Regions from separate parts of the Homo sapiens genome. Here region 2 is linked to region 1. Evidence: fine-mapped expression QTL. A gene starts in region 1. The other region holds a variant in brackets. All regions are shown on one strand. Distances are between the middles of the regions. Region 1 holds the start of ERAP1 (endoplasmic reticulum aminopeptidase 1). Region 2 overlaps CAST (calpastatin).

Region 1 (8,757 bases):
GGAAACATGCTCAGGTTACCTTAGACAGCAGTATCTTGTGAAATAAATGCCTGAGGGAGGGAAAATGGGAAACATGTGATCAGTCCTCGTGGCACCTAGAATGTTCTTCAGGATCCACAATTCTAGAAGTTCAAGGGCAGCTGTGGTCACTCAACTTGCTTGAGTTGTTCCTACAGAATCTGGCATACATTGCTCGCTCCCATAGTGCTCTGTTGTATGGTAATACAGGACTCTCTCTGAAGACTGACTCCAACTGGCTAAATCAAAAAGGAAAGCATTGGTCCTCTTGAATGGAAGGTCTAAGGACAGGATTTGCTCAGGACAGCTGGAGCTGAGGGCTTTAGTGGAGGTATTCTCTGTCTCTGTCAGCCCTGCTGTCCTTTGAACTGGCTTCACTTTAAAGCAGGCTTTTTCCATGTGGTGGCCCCTGGTAGGTCACTTCACATCTCTAATCCTGTTTCCTCATTCTAGAAAAATGGAGCTACTAGCCACCTGCATAAGTACAATGTGAGGATCCCATGAGATAGACTATATGTAAATGCTTTCAAGCTGCCACATTTCAGAGGACTTTATTATTTGATATGAGCTCAGTGGCCTGTTTTGGAACAGTCTTTAACATGGCATCTGTACCGTCTTCCCTGTTTCTGATTATTAATAAGATGGTATTGCTTTTGTTAAGCAAGCCTGCTCTGCAACTTGGCACAGAGGGGGAAAAAAGTCATCCTCTTTATCAAGAATATCAAGAATGAGGGGCATTATTATTTTTTTTTAAATTGGCATTTAAAAAAATTAAGTTCTAAGGCCCTGGGAGCCTATGGAAGAGTCTCAAGGACCACAATGTGTGTGGAAGGGCCGGATAGCAGTGGGCAAGGCTGACTGGGTGGAGCTGCCCTGTTTAATAAGAGCAGGCCTGCTTTTGTCTGTTTTCTACACCATGATTCTGGATGAGATTTTACATCAAAAAGGAGAGTGGTAATATGATTAAAATAGGAGCAGCTTTGGCAGCAAAACAGAAGAAATGAGCCAAACGCTGACATTAATTGACTAAAAGCTAATGAAAGCAGAACTGAATCAATCAATTACAGCAAAATTGAACATCACTTGACAATATCTAGAATTCAATATTTTTTAAGTAGATCAGTAATAGCTCAAAGTGGTATGTATTTCATTGGCCTAGGCCTGAAATTCTCCTCATTCCTCTGGCTCACCTCTGGGACTAAGGACACTGAGAAGCCTCTGCAATGGATGGGCTCAACCGGCCAACCAGCCCTCCTACACTATATGGTATACAATATTAGTGTTTACCAACCCCTCCTTGTTCTGGCCAATGCAATGTGAGTAGAATTAGTGTGTGTTTTCTCTTTGACTCTGAGCAAGTTGCCGACCTGTCTCATTTTTCTCATCTATAAAGCATAATATCTACATTACAGGGTTGCTGAAGAGATCAAATTATAAACACACACATGCACACATAGCTAGCATTTAACAGTATCTAACAGTTGGTAGGGAATCAATAAACCTAGGTACCCTTTCTCTCTGTTCCCTTCCTTCTAACCATTTCTAAGCTCGGTAATGTGCTGTTTTGATCTCACAGGCTCTAGAACTAGGACTCCTTAAAGTCCTTACTCCAAGGTCTGTGTCCTCTACATCCCTGCTAGGGCTTTGAAACTAGAAGTGAATGCTGCCAAATCCTCTGACTTATCGCTCTTTGTAGTGCACTTCAACTCTAAAGACGAAATCACGGCCAGGGCGACAGGCTAAAGTCTGAGTCAGGGTGAGCTTTTGGGGAAACGGCGTGGAGCGGGTGGTGGTGTCAGCTCTCTCCTCGCCTACACTTCAGCTCCTTTCTGCCCACATCCATTCAGGGCATTGCCCTGTTTGTCTCCTCAGCTGTCTTCTGTATTAACCTCCAGCCTGTTGGGTGCATTCAGTTCTGCCAGCTGGACTTTCAATATGTATTTAAAAAGACACATAAACAAAAAACAAAAACAAAAACAAAAAAACTTTACTAGAAGCCAAAGGAAAACCATCATATTCAAAAATATAAATATAAAAGCAAAGAAATGCATACATTTACTGGACAAAGAGGTCTCATCTTGAGTAAACTGGGAGCACTCCGAGATGTCTGGAGGTCTTGGAGGCTACACGCTATCCATTGATACCTCCTGTCAAATTCTGAACATGCAGAAATTACCAGATCTCAAAGTCCTCATTTCTTGTTGAATTTTAGTGAAAAAAACTTCCCTGGATCCCACCGTAGTTGAGTCTTGGAACAGGGTGTTAATCTTTATATTATAAAATGTCCTTGACTAGAGATAATAGGCAGTATGAAACATTATATTTTTAAAAAGGAAACATAATATTGAAAAAAAAAGAGAAATACTGTTGCAGTGACTTGGAATCCCCAGTTCTCAAAGGGAAGAAGGCCAATAAAGAAGTGGGAGAAGAAAGTCTGAGAACCGCATGAAAAGGGTCCTGTTCCCACTAGGACCATGGTCCACTCACCAAATTATCAGAGACGTTTGAACCAGAGCAACTCCATCTTGAATAGGAGCTGGGTAAAATAAGGCTGAGACCTACTGGGCTACACTCCCAGGAGGTTAGACATTCTAAGTCACAGAATGAGATAGAAGGTAGGCACAAGACACAGGTCATAAAGACCTTGCTGATAAAACAGGTTGCAGTAAGGAAGCTGGCCAAAACCCACCAAAACCAGGATGGCAATGAGAGTGTCCTCTGGTCGTCACTGCTACGGTCTCACCAGCTCCATGACAGTTTACAAATGCCACTGCAACGTCGGGAAGCTACCCTATATGGTCTAAAAAGGGGAGGCATGAATAATTTCCCCCGCTTAGCATATAATCAAGAAATAACCCTAAAAATGGACAACCAACAGCCCTTGGGGGTGCTCTGCCTATGAGTAGCCATTCTTTTATTCCTTTAGTTTCTTAATTACTTGCTTTCACTTTACTCCATGGACTCCCCTCAAATTCTTTCTTGCGCAAAATCCAAGAACCCTCTCTTGGGGTCTGGATCGGGACCCATTTTCGGTAATAAACTTGTAGCATTTGGTGTTTTAATGTTTGTGTTTTCTTGACTTGTTACCTCATTTAGCCTCAACTGTTTAAAGATGGTCTTTTTGGCCATTTTATTCAGCTTTAATTGTTCTAAGGGGAGTGAAGAAATGGTCATTTACTTTGAAAAATCAGAGGGAACGTGTTGATGCGGGAAGCAGCTAATCCTTGGGGTACAGTGGCCCTTGGTAGTGCAGGAAAGTCCTGGGGGCCACCTCTAACCCACCTTCCTCCTCTACAGCATCTCCCACTGTAGTCATTCTCTACCGAAGCCCCAGAAGGTGCGGCACTTTGCCACGACAGAGTACTGGGTTCATGTTTCTTTCCGAGGCGGGCCAAGAGCTCTCAGCCCACTGGCAGTGGCGAGATGACGGACACCCAGCGAGTCCAATGGGCGTCGAACGCGTCTAGGCTTGGTGGACTTGTCAGCGCCTGCCTGGCTTCGGTCCCCAACTTGAGCACCGGCCCTTTCCTGCATGCCCCTAACCCTCGCAACGCTAAACAGTGAAAAAAAAAAAAAGACAAAAACAAAAAGCATCTCAACACACACACACACACACACACACACACACACACACACACACACACACACACACACACACACACACACACACACGGATCCGCGTTCAGAAAGGCGTGCACTTCCTACGCCTGATCCCCCGCATCGCAACCTCGCAGCTTCCCCGGCGTGCAGCGCTCATTTACCAATTCCCTTCCTGGGAGTTGCGGCTTCCCTCGCTCGGCCCCACTCCCGTTTACCCTTTCCCCAGCTCCCGCCTTAGCCAGGGGCTTCCCCGCCTGCCGCTAGGGCTCGGGCCGAAGCGCCGCTCAGCGCCAGCCTGCCGCTCCCCGGGCTCCACTTTCACTTTCGGTCCTGGGGGAGCTAGGCCGGCGGCAGTGGTGGTGGCGGCGGCGCAAGGGTGAGGGCGGCCCCAGAACCCCAGGTACAGCGCGCTCGAGCCGCGGGTAGGGGACTGCGGGCCGGGAGGAGAGCGCGGCACCCGCCCCTTCCCTGCGCCCGTCAAGTGGGGGGCTGAGGGCCTGGGGCACGGGAGGAGGGAGACGGGGCACGGGAGGAGGGAGACGGGGCGCGGGAGGAAGGCGACGGGGCGCGGGAGGAAGGCGACGGGGCGCGAGACAGGGCGCGGGAAGGGCGGGGGGAGTCGCTGGCTAGGCCCGAGTCCGCGGGGTGCCCGGCGGGTTGGCGGCGGGCCCACCCCTGCCGGTCCCTGTCCCTGTCCCTCCGGGCGCGTGGCCGGTGCGCCTGCTTCACGGGTCTCCCCGCTGTTCGGCCGGCGGGAGCCTCCCTCAGCGCTCCGCCTGGCGCCTGGATGCCTGCCAGTCCTGCAGGCCACCGACGCCCGCGCGAGGCCAAAAGGCGGGGTGGGGCGGGCAGCTGGCTCGGGCTGAGGAGGGCACCTGCCCATAGCTGCTAGAGAAACCCAGAGGCTTTGGGTTAAAGACTCTGGTGGGGTGGGATGCGCGGGCCGTGTGTGTTCTTAAGGTCACTTCCCTCCCTGCTTCTCCTGTTCTTCTGGTCAGCAATTCTCTCTCTCCCCTTCGCTCTGGCTCTGGCTGGGTTTTATTCAGATAAAGCACCTCTGTTGACGCAAATTAAAAGTTTCCTATCTGGGTGCCTCACTGGCCAGGTGGTCCTACAAAGTTAATTCCATGAGGGGAAGGGGGAGAGCACACACTTCCTCACGCTTTTGGATTTCTTTGTGTAGGCTAGGTTCAGAAAGAAATTATCTGTTTCCTATTAAACACCCAGAGGATTCGCTCTGAACTCAGGACGTGGTCAACAATTAACAAAACAACAAAACAAAACAAAACAAAACAAAAAACTTGAAAATTGGGCACAGTTGTCTCTTGCCTGAGGATTTTTAATTAGTATAAGTAGCACATTTTCAGGTGCGGCCTGAATAGAAACATTCTAGTACTTTTTTTTTTTTCAAATTAATCCAGCATTTTTATTATTTACCAACAGTGCTTGTTAATTTCATTGTTCAGGAAATTCTGGAAGAACCTCAATTACTTCTTGATGATCTATTTCATATACTATAGTGCCCCAATAAAAGGAAGGGAGGCAGAGGTTGCAGTGAGCCAAGATCGCACCACTGCACTCCAGCCTGGGAGACAGAGCGAGACTCCGTCTCAAAAAAAAAAAAAAAAAAAAAAAAGAGGGATCTTGGTGAAGCTGAAAAAGCAGGGAGTTTATACTCACACAGATGTGGATTGCATTCCAACAAGTTGTGTGAACTTAGCAAAGTTACATGAATGGTTCTTTGCTTCAGTTACCCCACCTTGAATGAGAATAATAGGCTATTAGAGAGAGTGAGCATGTGTAAAGTGCCTGGCACTTTGGAGGAGCTTAGTAAATATTAGTTCTTTTTCCTCCTTGGCTTCTATTCCTTTAAGTGTTAGTGGAGTGTAACTTCAAAGAGAATTGTACTTCTCTTGGGAAGAGCTGCTTATATTGAGTAGACTACTGTTTTTGAGAGCTTTCTTTTTTTTTAACTGCCTCCCTTTCAGAAAATTGTTAGTAAAACCAGACCCTAGGAGACCAGCCAGAACCATGAAATGCCATGTTTCAAACTGGAACACTTACTATTGGAAGCAAAGCCAAACAAGAGCTAATTTTTCAGGGGAAGAGCCAAACACACGAACATGATCACAGAATCTTGGATGTAGCCTACAGTTTGGGATTAATAAGAGAATTTATTAGTGAAGCCCTTTATTCACTACATGGAGTTTTTACCAAGCCCCACTCATGCACTGCATCCTCGTTGAGACATAACTGTTTCTCTTTGGACCCCTCATGGACCCAACCCTGCAAAGCCTCTGATCCAAGGTCCCGGTACCAACCCCTTCCGCAGCACATCAGCCTTTCTGTCAGCTCATAACGAGTTGGAATTTCTAGATCTTCTCTGGGGCTGTTGGAGAGGTCTCGGGGACTTTCAGAGTCCTTACATGCTTGAACCTGCCACCTTCACAGAGTCCTCTGGATCCCGTCTTGGGGCAGGGGCGATGCTCATTAAGCTGTTGCTGCCAGTAATTCCATATGGAAAGCAAAACACAAGTTCCATTTACTCTCTAGTTCCCCAACTTCAAGGGCAAAAAAATGTTCTCCCTGTTCACACTTCCTGTCTCACCTGGGTGGTGCCTTTTGAACTGGGATTATGAGATTTCCAAGACTCTCTCTAATGTGTAGGTATCCTTTCTGTTTAGCCTCCAGATTGCTCCAGAGGTGAGGAGAAGGGAATTCCCTTGAGCTGTGCATTTGGGAAGGGAGCAAGGAAGTCAGGGGTTAGGGAAGGCACTTCAGCCATTGCCTTGAATTAGTATCCTATCACATAGAGTTGAAGGGGGAAAGCCAGGATTTGGCAAGGATGAGCTTTTCAACCTTGGCTTCTCAGTAAAATCTCTGGACAGTTTTTTTTTTTTTTAAAAAAAAAAACCAAAAACCAGAAATTAAACAATCCGTAAAACCATACCCCGATCTTATCACCATAGGTTCCAGTTTAATTGTTGTCAATAAGGACCCAGGCATCGAAAATTTTAAAAGCTTCCCAGGTTACATTAATATGCAGCCAGAGTTAGGAAACTTGACATCTCAGAGAGGGAGAATTCCATGTACTGTGAACACTTTGAGGGATCCACATTGTAAGCTTGCTACTTTTCCCAACTGGAACACGAGGAGTTTGGGCCAATCACTTGCATTCACCTGGTATGGGCCCCTCTTGGCAAACACCCATTAGAAAGGTGCGTTTGTATAAAAGAAATAAAAACTTATGTTTGATGCTTGGGGCATGGTTTGCCAACTTCCTTAAAATTCACATTGCCTTTTTTTTTTTTTTTTAAAGACAGAGTCTTGCTCTGTTGCCAGGCTGGAGTGCAGTGGTGCAATCTCAGCTCACTGCAACTCTGCCTCCCAGGTTCAAGCGATTCTCCTGCCTCAGCCTCCCAAGTAATTAGGACTACAGGTGCGCACCACCACACCCAGCTAATTTTTGTATTTTTAGTAGAGACGGGATTTCGCCATGTTGGCCAGGATGGTCTCAATCTGTTGACCTTGTGATCTGCCCACCTCATCCTCCCAAAGTGCTGGGATTACAGGCGTGAGCCACCATGCCTGGCCTGAAATTCACATTGCTTTTATGTCTTTAAAATCAATCCAGGTGATTGATACGTTTGCCACAAACTACTGGGAAAATTAAGCTCTTTAAGCTCTTCCTGGCTAAATAAATAGGTAATTAACTTTTGGCATGACAATTTGAGGAAGACACTGATGTTATTAAAGGTTACCATTACATATACTTACAGGGGAAGTGGAGACCTCGTTCTAGTGGTGGCTGCCACTGTGTCAGCATTTGATTTCCAGGGTACTAGGGTGACTTTCTCCAAGGTCCAGTGTCAGTGGGGAGTGGTGCTTGATCAGATGTTCCTCTGATATGGTTCTGGTTTTGCTTCTTTCATGAGCCTGGTTTCCCAAATGTCCTGCAACTCTGTGACCCGTGTAGTGAGCCACTCAGGATCCCCTAATGATTCCTTTTCTGCCTATATCAGCCAGAGCTTGTTCGGTTGCTTTCAACCAAGAACCCTGACAGGTAGAGTTAATTTAAACTTTGAACATCAAATGATGCTTTCTAGTACGTGTTAATGATTGTTGCTAACTGTAAACATCTTTCTTATATGAAACCATAACATAGGGAAGGTCCTTTTACTTTCAGGAAAAGACCTAGTACTTTTGGAAGTTTATGCCTATTTCTGTGAATGCTGGGTGGATACATTCTGAAATTATGCTGTGTCAATAACATTTTAATGACATATATTTTTGCTTTTGTACATTTGTGCCGCTAGGTAGGTAGAGCAAGAAGATGGTGTTTCTGCCCCTCAAATGGTCCCTTGCAACCATGTCATTTCTACTTTCCTCACTGTTGGCTCTCTTAACTGTGTCCACTCCTTCATGGTGTCAGAGCACTGAAGCATCTCCAAAACGTAGTGATGGGACACCATTTCCTTGGAATAAAATACGACTTCCTGAGTACGTCATCCCAGTTCATTATGATCTCTTGATCCATGCAAACCTTACCACGCTGACCTTCTGGGGAACCACGAAAGTAGAAATCACAGCCAGTCAGCCCACCAGCACCATCATCCTGCATAGTCACCACCTGCAGATATCTAGGGCCACCCTCAGGAAGGGAGCTGGAGAGAGGCTATCGGAAGAACCCCTGCAGGTCCTGGAACACCCCCGTCAGGAGCAAATTGCACTGCTGGCTCCCGAGCCCCTCCTTGTCGGGCTCCCGTACACAGTTGTCATTCACTATGCTGGCAATCTTTCGGAGACTTTCCACGGATTTTACAAAAGCACCTACAGAACCAAGGAAGGGGAACTGAGGTATTTTTTTTTCTCTTTTTCTTTTAAACTGCAAGTGCTGCCCACGCTAAATTCATTATTTCAGATTGATTGTCTTTTAAAATTCCCTTTGCTGTTGAACTTTTTCTTCAGTTTTGCTTTTGCATCTTCTTTATAGTGTTAAAAATGGCTTTTTCCCTTGCTTTTTAAATCTCATTTTAAAATTCTATTTTAACCAATTTTCTTTCCCCCAGCTCTATCAGAGTAAATATCTATTTGTTTATTTGGTTCGATTTCTGAGACATAATAAACATGTTTAATTTT
Region 2 (8,757 bases), 47 kb after region 1:
TAAATAATGCTGAATTAGTCACTCATTAGCCAAACTGTATCAGAGGCAAATTAGCCCAGGAACTCCATCTTTTCAGGAGGGAACCTGTTTCCTTGGAAGAAAAAGACATCTGGGGCTGGGGCAGGGGAGTAGACAGGGTCAGAGAAGAGAAGCCTAGGAATGGAAGATCAGGAGAAGAGCGGCAGTATCTGTCACCCTACTGGGGTTGGAGGGCCAGCACCTTCCACCCAACCCTGCCCATCTCTTGGTGAAGATCCCACCAGGTTAAGGAGGTCTTAGTGGCAGCCTCAGGAGCCATATCCAGTGGGTGACCTGGAGGTCACATAAAGGGTCCAAAAGCAAATGAACCAATCATGTGTGCCTTTCATTTAGAAATTAAACACCATTAGAAAACTGGATATGAAAACAAACATCTACTAATGTTGTCAGATGGTTAGGAAGCAAGATTCTGCAACTATAGAGGGTAAGTGTTTCTTTGGTTCTGTGGGTCCTCTCTAAAACTCTAAGATCTTGAGGGGTGCATTTCAGAAAGTGCAGCGTGACCCGCAGTTTGTGGGAAGCCATGGAGCTCGGCACTGCCATCCTAATACTTCCTAAAGCACAAAACCCCAGAGACAATCTGGGGTCAGGAGAGTGGAAGGGGCTTGTCTGCCACACTGGTGATGAGTGCCCTGAAAGACTTCAGAGAATTTCTGAACTGGTGGGGAAACCTCTCTTTTCATCTTCAGGAAGCTCATGGAAGTGAAATTGCAGAAATGGGAGCTGGTATTCTAGAGGAAAAAAATTATGGACAACAATATCACTGTAACTAAGATAGCTTATTTCCTCTAACATTTATTTACTGTATGATTCAGGCAGCTTATTTAACCCCTTTCAGCTTCAGTTTCCTTGGCCGTGAAATGTGAATAATAGTAGTACTTATACTCCTAAGTTGCTGAGAAAAGTAAATGATTGAAAAGGCATTTAAAACAATACTAGTTGTATGTTAGGACCCAACAAATGGTAAATTATTATTAGTATTATTATAGCAAAATCCATATTTTTCAACACATTGCATTCAAAATTCCACCTCTAAATGAATTCAATTAAAATGTGTTTAATATCTACATTGTATAAGACACCATGCTGAACTCTGTCCAATACTGTATAGAACTTTCCAGTTGATTTTCAAAATGTTTTCACATACACTATCCAGTTTTATTTGATGCCCACAATGGTTCTCAGTGAACTAAGCAGGCTTTTTTTTTTTGAGGTAAAAAGCTCAGGGAAGCTAAGTCAGTTGCTTGAAAACAAATTGTTAAAAAGTGAATAGAACCCAGGTCTTGGGACTGATAAAGCTTTTCCCTGTCATGCTTAGTCACATCCATGATCTTCTATTTTCTTTGAAGCAGTTTTCCTGTTGGAGTGATTTTATTACACAGATCTTTGAAATCATGTCTTCAAATGCTTTCAGTGTATGTAACACTGTTAGTAACAATCTAATAATCACAGCAAAGAAAGCTCCCGTGAATTATCATGGTTTATTTGACTCTTCGATTTCCTAATATTTTTATCTAAATAAAGCTTTATACCTTGTTTTAGTGACATCTTCAAATAAAATGTTAACTAAAAACAAGCCTCTCTGATGGGAAATGTGATCAGAGAAGTGTCATTGTAAAACCTACTTCTTAAAGGCAAAAAAGTTTTTGATTGCAAATGTTTACTGATAGCCTTCATCAGGGCAGAATCTCTGGCCTGAATATTAAGAACTGAAGTGTAAACGGCAGCCTAGGCTATTAATGATTCTTCCTTTCTGTTGCATGGGGACTTTCTTCATTGTGGGTGTGTTTACATACACACATGCACATGCACATGCACATACACACACACGGGGCATTTTACTGGTTTTAAGTGCTTTATTATAATCCAGGATTATAGCTGCTAATGGTAGAGCTGCCCGGGGCCAGGTCTGGGCTTTGTCATTTGTGCCTCTGGATATTTTCAGATGATCCTGAAGCTGACGCAACAGGATGAAAATCCATCAGAATCTCAGACTACAGCACTAAATATGCTTTGATGCTACATCAAACGGAATGGAAGCATAGCTGACTTCGCTAAAGTTACTTCATCTCCATCTAGCAAATGAGGCACTGTTCTCAACCAAAGGAGATGGGGATCTGGTTTAGGGCAATCCCTTTATAATTTGATGTGCTGTGGTCTCCTTGGTAATGTATAATTTGGTATTGCACAGGTGATTAGTCAAGGAAGTCTGGAAAAGCTTTGGTCCCACAGCCTTGCCTCACAGCATGTAAATAATTAAAACAATATTGATGCTGAGGTTCTTCTACTGCTAGTATGAAAGTGACAAATTTTTACTGGTGTGAATTGGGAAGAAAACAATGCTATTCCATGACGTTTGTAAAATGTTTGTAAAAGCTCAAACATGACGATTCCATAAAATAAACTTGAGGTTAAATAATGGGTAGTAAATTATAGAATGTATAAGAAAAAATATAAAGGAGAAAATCAATTATCAGGAAAGCTAAAGAACTTTTCAAATCTAGTAATTTGAATATAGACACAATGCACTTTATTGCACTTTCAATTCTTATAAAGCAACAATAATATTAAGGTCCTTGACTATGTGTACAATGTTTTCACATATATAGTTTCATTTAATCATTTCAAAGTTAATCTCTGCCATCTCGCTAAATCATCAGTCTCGGCTCTTCTGAAATAGAAGGTGCCTGATCTTCCTAATAATTCTGCCTATTTTCATTTGCTTTAAACAGGCGCCCTATTTTCTTTCTAGTTGTGGCTGCGCAAAAACATTTATCTCCCAAATAAGATGTGCTGCTTACCGAGGTATCACGGGGTGGGGCTCCAGCTTGGGTCGTTGAAGCTGGGGTTTGGGAAACCACTTCAGAGATGGCAGCAGCAAGTTTAGCATCTTCAAATTTCTTTTATTGAAAAAAATTTTATTAGTAACATGTTGTATATAAAATTATGAGCACAATGCCATCACTTAACTATAACTCTTAAAGATAGCTTAATGACTGTTTATTCTCTTGACCAAATAGACTCATAATAACATATAATTTTAAAAGAAATTTAAATTCTTTCTTCTCTATTGTATTATTTTATACAATTTGCTATTTCTATTTCCTTCTCATATTGATTATTCTAAATACTATGCAATAATATAACTTAGAGTTCCACGGTTTGTTTACACATTTCCTGTTGTACATTTAGGTTATTCAAAGTTTTCAGCTCTTTTAAAATTGCTCTGAATAAGTTCTAGTGAGTGAGTTATGGTGCTGGCTATATTTTGCTAAACTGCCCTCTCAAATGTTGCTAGGAATTCATACTGCGAAAAGCAATGAATAAGCATGCCTGTTTTCCCATGGCCTTGCTTGCCAGAATTTGACTTTTATTATGATAATCAGTGTAAAATGATATACTACTATTGCTTGTATATTGTGGTATACGGTGTCAGGTTTCAGGGTTTTTTTTCAACGTTAAATATTCTAGAAACTTTCTGAAATAATTTCTGTTTAAAAATATTGAATATTTGCTTCATTTCAAATACTCCCTTTTGACAAAAAAACTTAGGTATAACTGTTGATGAAAAACCAGAAAAAAGTCCAGAACTCTTTGGTGACTCCAACTATGGATAGCTTATTTTGAAAAAGGAGAATTGCAAATTTTACCAAAAGATGGAGAAAAGCACATTAAAAAGATACCAACATTCAGAAATTCATTTCAGCATGTTATTATTGGAAATTATTTAAACTAATTTAGATAACTATAAGATACTTATTGTCCATTTATACCCTGTAAAGCCGTTTTAGAATGTAATATTTTAGGTAATCCAAAATGTACTAAATTAAATTCATTTTTAGTTATGAGAAATCTTTGCTTATATGACAAATGAAAAGAATAACAAGTTGTCAAATGAAAAGAATGACATTGAAACATTTGTATTGTCTCTTCTTAAACTATCTTATTGACTTATTATTTAAGCCTTTTAATACTAAGTATGAAACAACCTATGGTCTGGAAATTTGTATCGCAAAGCTATATGTGCATATGTTATTTAATTCATCTAA[T/C]GCTACACAAAAGCATAAAATAATGATTTTTCACTCTCTTTAAAAATACTAAATCATTTATGTCCATTTCTCAATTTTTTCATTGATCTATGCTTTGAGTTTGCTTTCTCAACATTATTGTATTTTCCACTTATTATTACTGTATAACATATGCTAGTGTTTAGTTGGATTAATCTTACCTAAAAGTACTGAAAAATGCTTTTTAGTACTTTTTCATATTTTATACATTTATTTTCCGAATGTATCATTGAATAATTTTATTGAGTTATAAAAGTATCTTATTGCTATTTAATAAAAAATTAACACATAAAATGACTTGAATTGTCATCATTCTTTTTAAGATATTTAGTTAAACTGACTTAATGTATGGCCTTCAATTTTTTTGTGTCCTTATTTTTCTGATCATTTCTCCTTTTATAGTTTACATTAAGTCTGATCTCATATTAATTACATTTTCTCATCTGTTGTTACTAATAAACATGGCATAATGTTACTTACAAATGTATTATCTACAAGTAGTGCTATCCACAAATATATTCAAATGTTCCCTTTTAATGTTTGTCATTTTTTTCATGTGTTGTTAATGATTCTTCCATGTGATAATAAGCAGAAATGACAATAAACTTTTCATAGTTTCTGCTTTTAAGGAAAATGCCTCCAGCATGATATTGAATATTTGATTCTGAAAACTAAAGACTCTTTAACAGATTAGGGGATTGCCTACTTTTTAAAAAGTTTTTATTTATAATATGAGTATATGTAAAATTTTAAATAGATCTTTTACATGGACATGATTATTTGTTTCTATTTGATATACCACTACAATATATTGACAGTTTTCCTGCTACTGAATCAATACTTATAATGGCAAATAATTTAACTGTTTGTTATATTCTATGTATGCTGTATGTAATTTTTACATCTACACATTTAAGTAACTTTAGCTGATACCGTTATATTTGTCAGATTTTAAGATTAGCACCATAATTACTCATAGAAGCAACTATGTGACCCCATCTTTTTCATGACATATTTATGCCACATAAGAACTGAGTGTTCAACAGTTAGAGTCATCTTTAAACCTTCAGTAGAAGGACAGTTTGAAAATCATTGCAATATTTTCTTCAGTCTTTTTTTAGGTTTTGTGAATTACGCAGTTTAATATTTTTGTTTAATCTTAGAAAATTGTTGTACATAGTGTTTCCTAATAATTTATTTGTGCTCTGTACTGATTATTGTATTTTCTCACATTTATGTTAAATTTTATTAGTAAGATTATTTTCTCTATTTATCAGTTTTGTAAAATGTTAAAAATTCATAAAAGCCAACTGACTATTGGCTTTAAACTACCAATAATTTAGTTGATCTCTATATTATTATATTACTCTGTTAAAATTTAATTGTATTTTTTGTAAGGTTTTTTTTCCTCTTTTATATTTGCTAGTATTTTATAAAGTATTTGTTATTTCAAAAGAAACAACTATTGGCCAGTTAACTTTCATGCCGCTATTTTCATTTCCTGGTATGCTTATTGCTACTTTGTTTTTGGTGGCTACCTTATTAAAACTTTTAGAAATTTCAGTTTAAAATTCAATAAGCATTTAGTTTATCAGGTTTCTCTTTTTCTCTTTCTCTACTATTGATAAAGGTGTTTATGACAATGTATCACAGGAATACTGCTTTGACTGCTTCTCAAAGACTTTTTCTTGTAATATCTTTGATGTTTTAAAATAGTCTATTATCAATGTGATCTCAGTATTATTAGGGGAATAGTTTTAAGTGTTTCTTTTTATATAGCATTTCTGTTCTATTATATCAAAGAGCATGGTACGTACAGGAGCTACTCTTTTACAGATGAACACTAATTATGAGCCATATGTGATACTTCTCCCCCAAATTTCTTGAAACTTTCCACTAAATAACTATTTTGATTATTTGGTTCTCATGATGATTAGTTATTTCTACTTTATTAACTATATTGTTGGCACTAATGTTTCCTTTGCTAATTTTCTAAGAGTAAGATTTTTTTTAAAGGTTGTTTCATCTCACCATTTCACTGCTACATATCTTTGAAGGGGGCATATAAATCCATTGTTACTTTTTCCAAATCTTTGAATTTCTAAAAGAAAAAACAACCCTAACAATTGTAATAATAATAATGATAGGAGGAGGAAGGGAATTGAGATCTTGTTCCCCACTATTTGTTCATCTGTTCTGCCTCAGTGTAATGCTATGACTCCACATTCCTGGCGTACTCCTCACATTGTATTCTTCCCCATGTCTTATGGTTTCTAAATCAAGGCTGGAGTGCTTTGCTGTGATGTGGTCTGTATGGAAGACGATGAGAGGAAGGTCACGGGATGAGGTGACTGAGCAGCACGGTGCTTTTACAGGGGTACAGAGAATAACATGCTCTGGTTAGTAAGCTCTTCTTTGAGGGGCTTTATTGCTTCATTCAGCAAAAGTAACAACTTCAGGCAATTCCAAAGAATCATTATTTCTTCTAGTTGTCATTCTGTCTATTCTCCAACTGATATAAATATATTTTCCATGCCACTGTCATAGAAACTGTTAATCCCTTTCCAACTGACTGCTAATAATACATTCAGTGGTTTAAAAACTGAGTTCCCAGTAAACAGATAAACCAGACCCCACAAGAAAAGGTTCTGCAGTTATTAAGTTTGGGAACTCTAACAGACTCACTATATATTTGCATATAAAAAGCCATGAAAATCCTACAGTAGAGAAACCTGCTTAACATTACCCAATATTGTCCAAACTTTTCGAGTAACAGAGTTCCCTTTGAGGGACTCTATATTCCACATGGAGCTAAGTTCCCTTAGGAGGCAATTTGGGAAATGATAAATTGTAGAAATATCAATAGGTAAAGTTGTCTGAGGAGTAATTTTGGATAAGCTTACATTTAAATTCTCTTTTCATAGGGGTACTGGTACTTGATATTAGTTACACTAATAAAAGCATCCACTATGTTGGGACAGTATTTCATGGTGCAACACATTTTTAATGGCTACAGTGGGTTGAGGGCCATTAATTTTATGATTGTTCCTGAGTTCCCAAGTCAGATTCTAAGTCACCAGTTTCCATTTATTTCTGCCACTCTAAAACTAAAGAAATAGGCCAGGCGCGGTGGCTCATGCCTGTAATCCAAGCACTTTCAGAGGCCGAGGTGGGCGGATCATGAGGTTAGGAGACTGACACCAGCCTGGCCAGCATGGTGAAAGCCCGTCTCTACTAAAAATACAAAAATTAGCTGGGTGTGGTGGTGCACCCCTGTAGTCCCAGCTACTCAGGAGGCTGGGGCAGGAGAATCGCTTGAATCTGGAAGGTGGAGGTTGCGGTGACTGAAGATGGCACCACTGTACTCCCGCCTGGATGACAGAGCAAGACTCCATCTCAAAGGAAAAAAAAAAAAAAAACTAAAGAAATAAAACCAAGAGTTTTGGACTTACAAGAGATGAAGCATTTTGTGGACCAGAGAAGTCCTCAGACAAAGCATCCAGAAGGAAGTCTTCACTCATGGGCTGCAAGAACCAGGAAATGTATCAACAAACACCATTGCAATCAGGGCCAAAAGGAAAAGATATCCTCAGAGAAAACTGGTTTGCTTACTGGAAGCTGTTCCTTAGACTCTTTTGGCAGGAGTGGCTTTCCATCTTTATCCTATCCGGGGGGGAAAACACATGGCATGAAATCATTTTACATTTTATCCAAAGTATGAAACCTTGTAAACATTACAAAGGGTCTACAGGTTATACTTGCTGTTGTACATTTTAAATTAGATCCATCATGTCACGAAGGATTCTCTCACCAGAGAATATGCTCTAATTAGTTCATGGCAACAAACAGCTCACAAGCACCAGGCATTCCTGAGTCACGGGGGCTGCACACTGGATGAGGTATGGCTTGTGACCTCAGAAGCCTAGAGACTATCACAGCAGGAAAACGTGAAAGTCAGCATAGTGTGGTATGTGGTGCTGTGACTGGGGTTTGCAGGACAGTGTGGGATAAGCCCTTTACCTACATGGGGGTGGGCTTTGTAGAGGTTGTCTGGAAAATGCTGGTTAACCTTGTAAGCCACACATCTAACTCATATGCAAGGACTACATGCCAAGCCCTGACCTAAGTAAGCATTGGCAATACAACAGAAAATCGCACAAAGGCCTTGCCCTCAGGGAGTTTAACCTGTCAGTGAAACGCTCTGCAACTTATGGTTCAGATTAGGTCAAGCTGTTTATGACTCCAAGTGCCACATTTGAGTAACACGACAAAATGAAGAAAGCATGCGGGGCTCTTTAGTAAAAGGAGATCTATATACTAATAGTAAATCCCATTTATCCACCTACACAAAAATAAGTAAATACAAAGATATACATATATATGAATATTTCACCTGAGAAACTGGTTAAGGTTGGTTTTTGTTTCATTGAAAATGTGAAGTGCAATGGTTTAGAGGTACAAGTTGAGTATCCCTAATCTGAAAATCTGAAAACAATTTAAATGCTCCAAAATTTGAAACTTTTTGAGTGCTGACCTGACAACTCAAAGGAAATGCTCACGGGGGCATTTTGGATTTTCAGACTAGGGCTGCTCAACAGATACGAGGCAAATATTCCAAAATCCAGAAAAGTCTGAAATCTGAAACAGTTCT

The links.
Region 2: its variant is fine-mapped to the expression of ERAP1 in lymphoblastoid cells (TwinsUK, PIP 0.95).

The regions. Positions count from the first base shown.
Region 1 is chr5:96,803,121-96,811,877 of GRCh38, reverse strand. It overlaps ERAP1 (endoplasmic reticulum aminopeptidase 1), which reads left to right and starts at 3,933. Exons shown (of 19, transcript NM_001040458.3): 1 at 3,933-4,018; 2 at 7,935-8,475. The coding sequence starts at 7,952. It overlaps LOC124901033 (a long non-coding RNA gene), which reads right to left and starts at 4,420. Exons shown (of 3, transcript XR_007058879.1): 1 at 3,301-4,420; 2 at 1-50. RefSeq lists enhancers at 3,253-3,322, 3,479-3,978, 3,979-4,480 and a silencer at 4,053-4,512.
Region 2 is chr5:96,756,456-96,765,212 of GRCh38, reverse strand. It overlaps CAST (calpastatin), which reads right to left. Exons shown (of 32, transcript NM_001750.7): 23 at 7,719-7,769; 24 at 7,559-7,630; 25 at 2,841-2,939. It also overlaps a transcript of ERAP1 not described here. Among named protein-coding and RNA genes, the nearest start is that of ERAP1, 47 kb to the left of the region's middle. The variant T/C (reference allele first, on the strand shown) is at 4,089.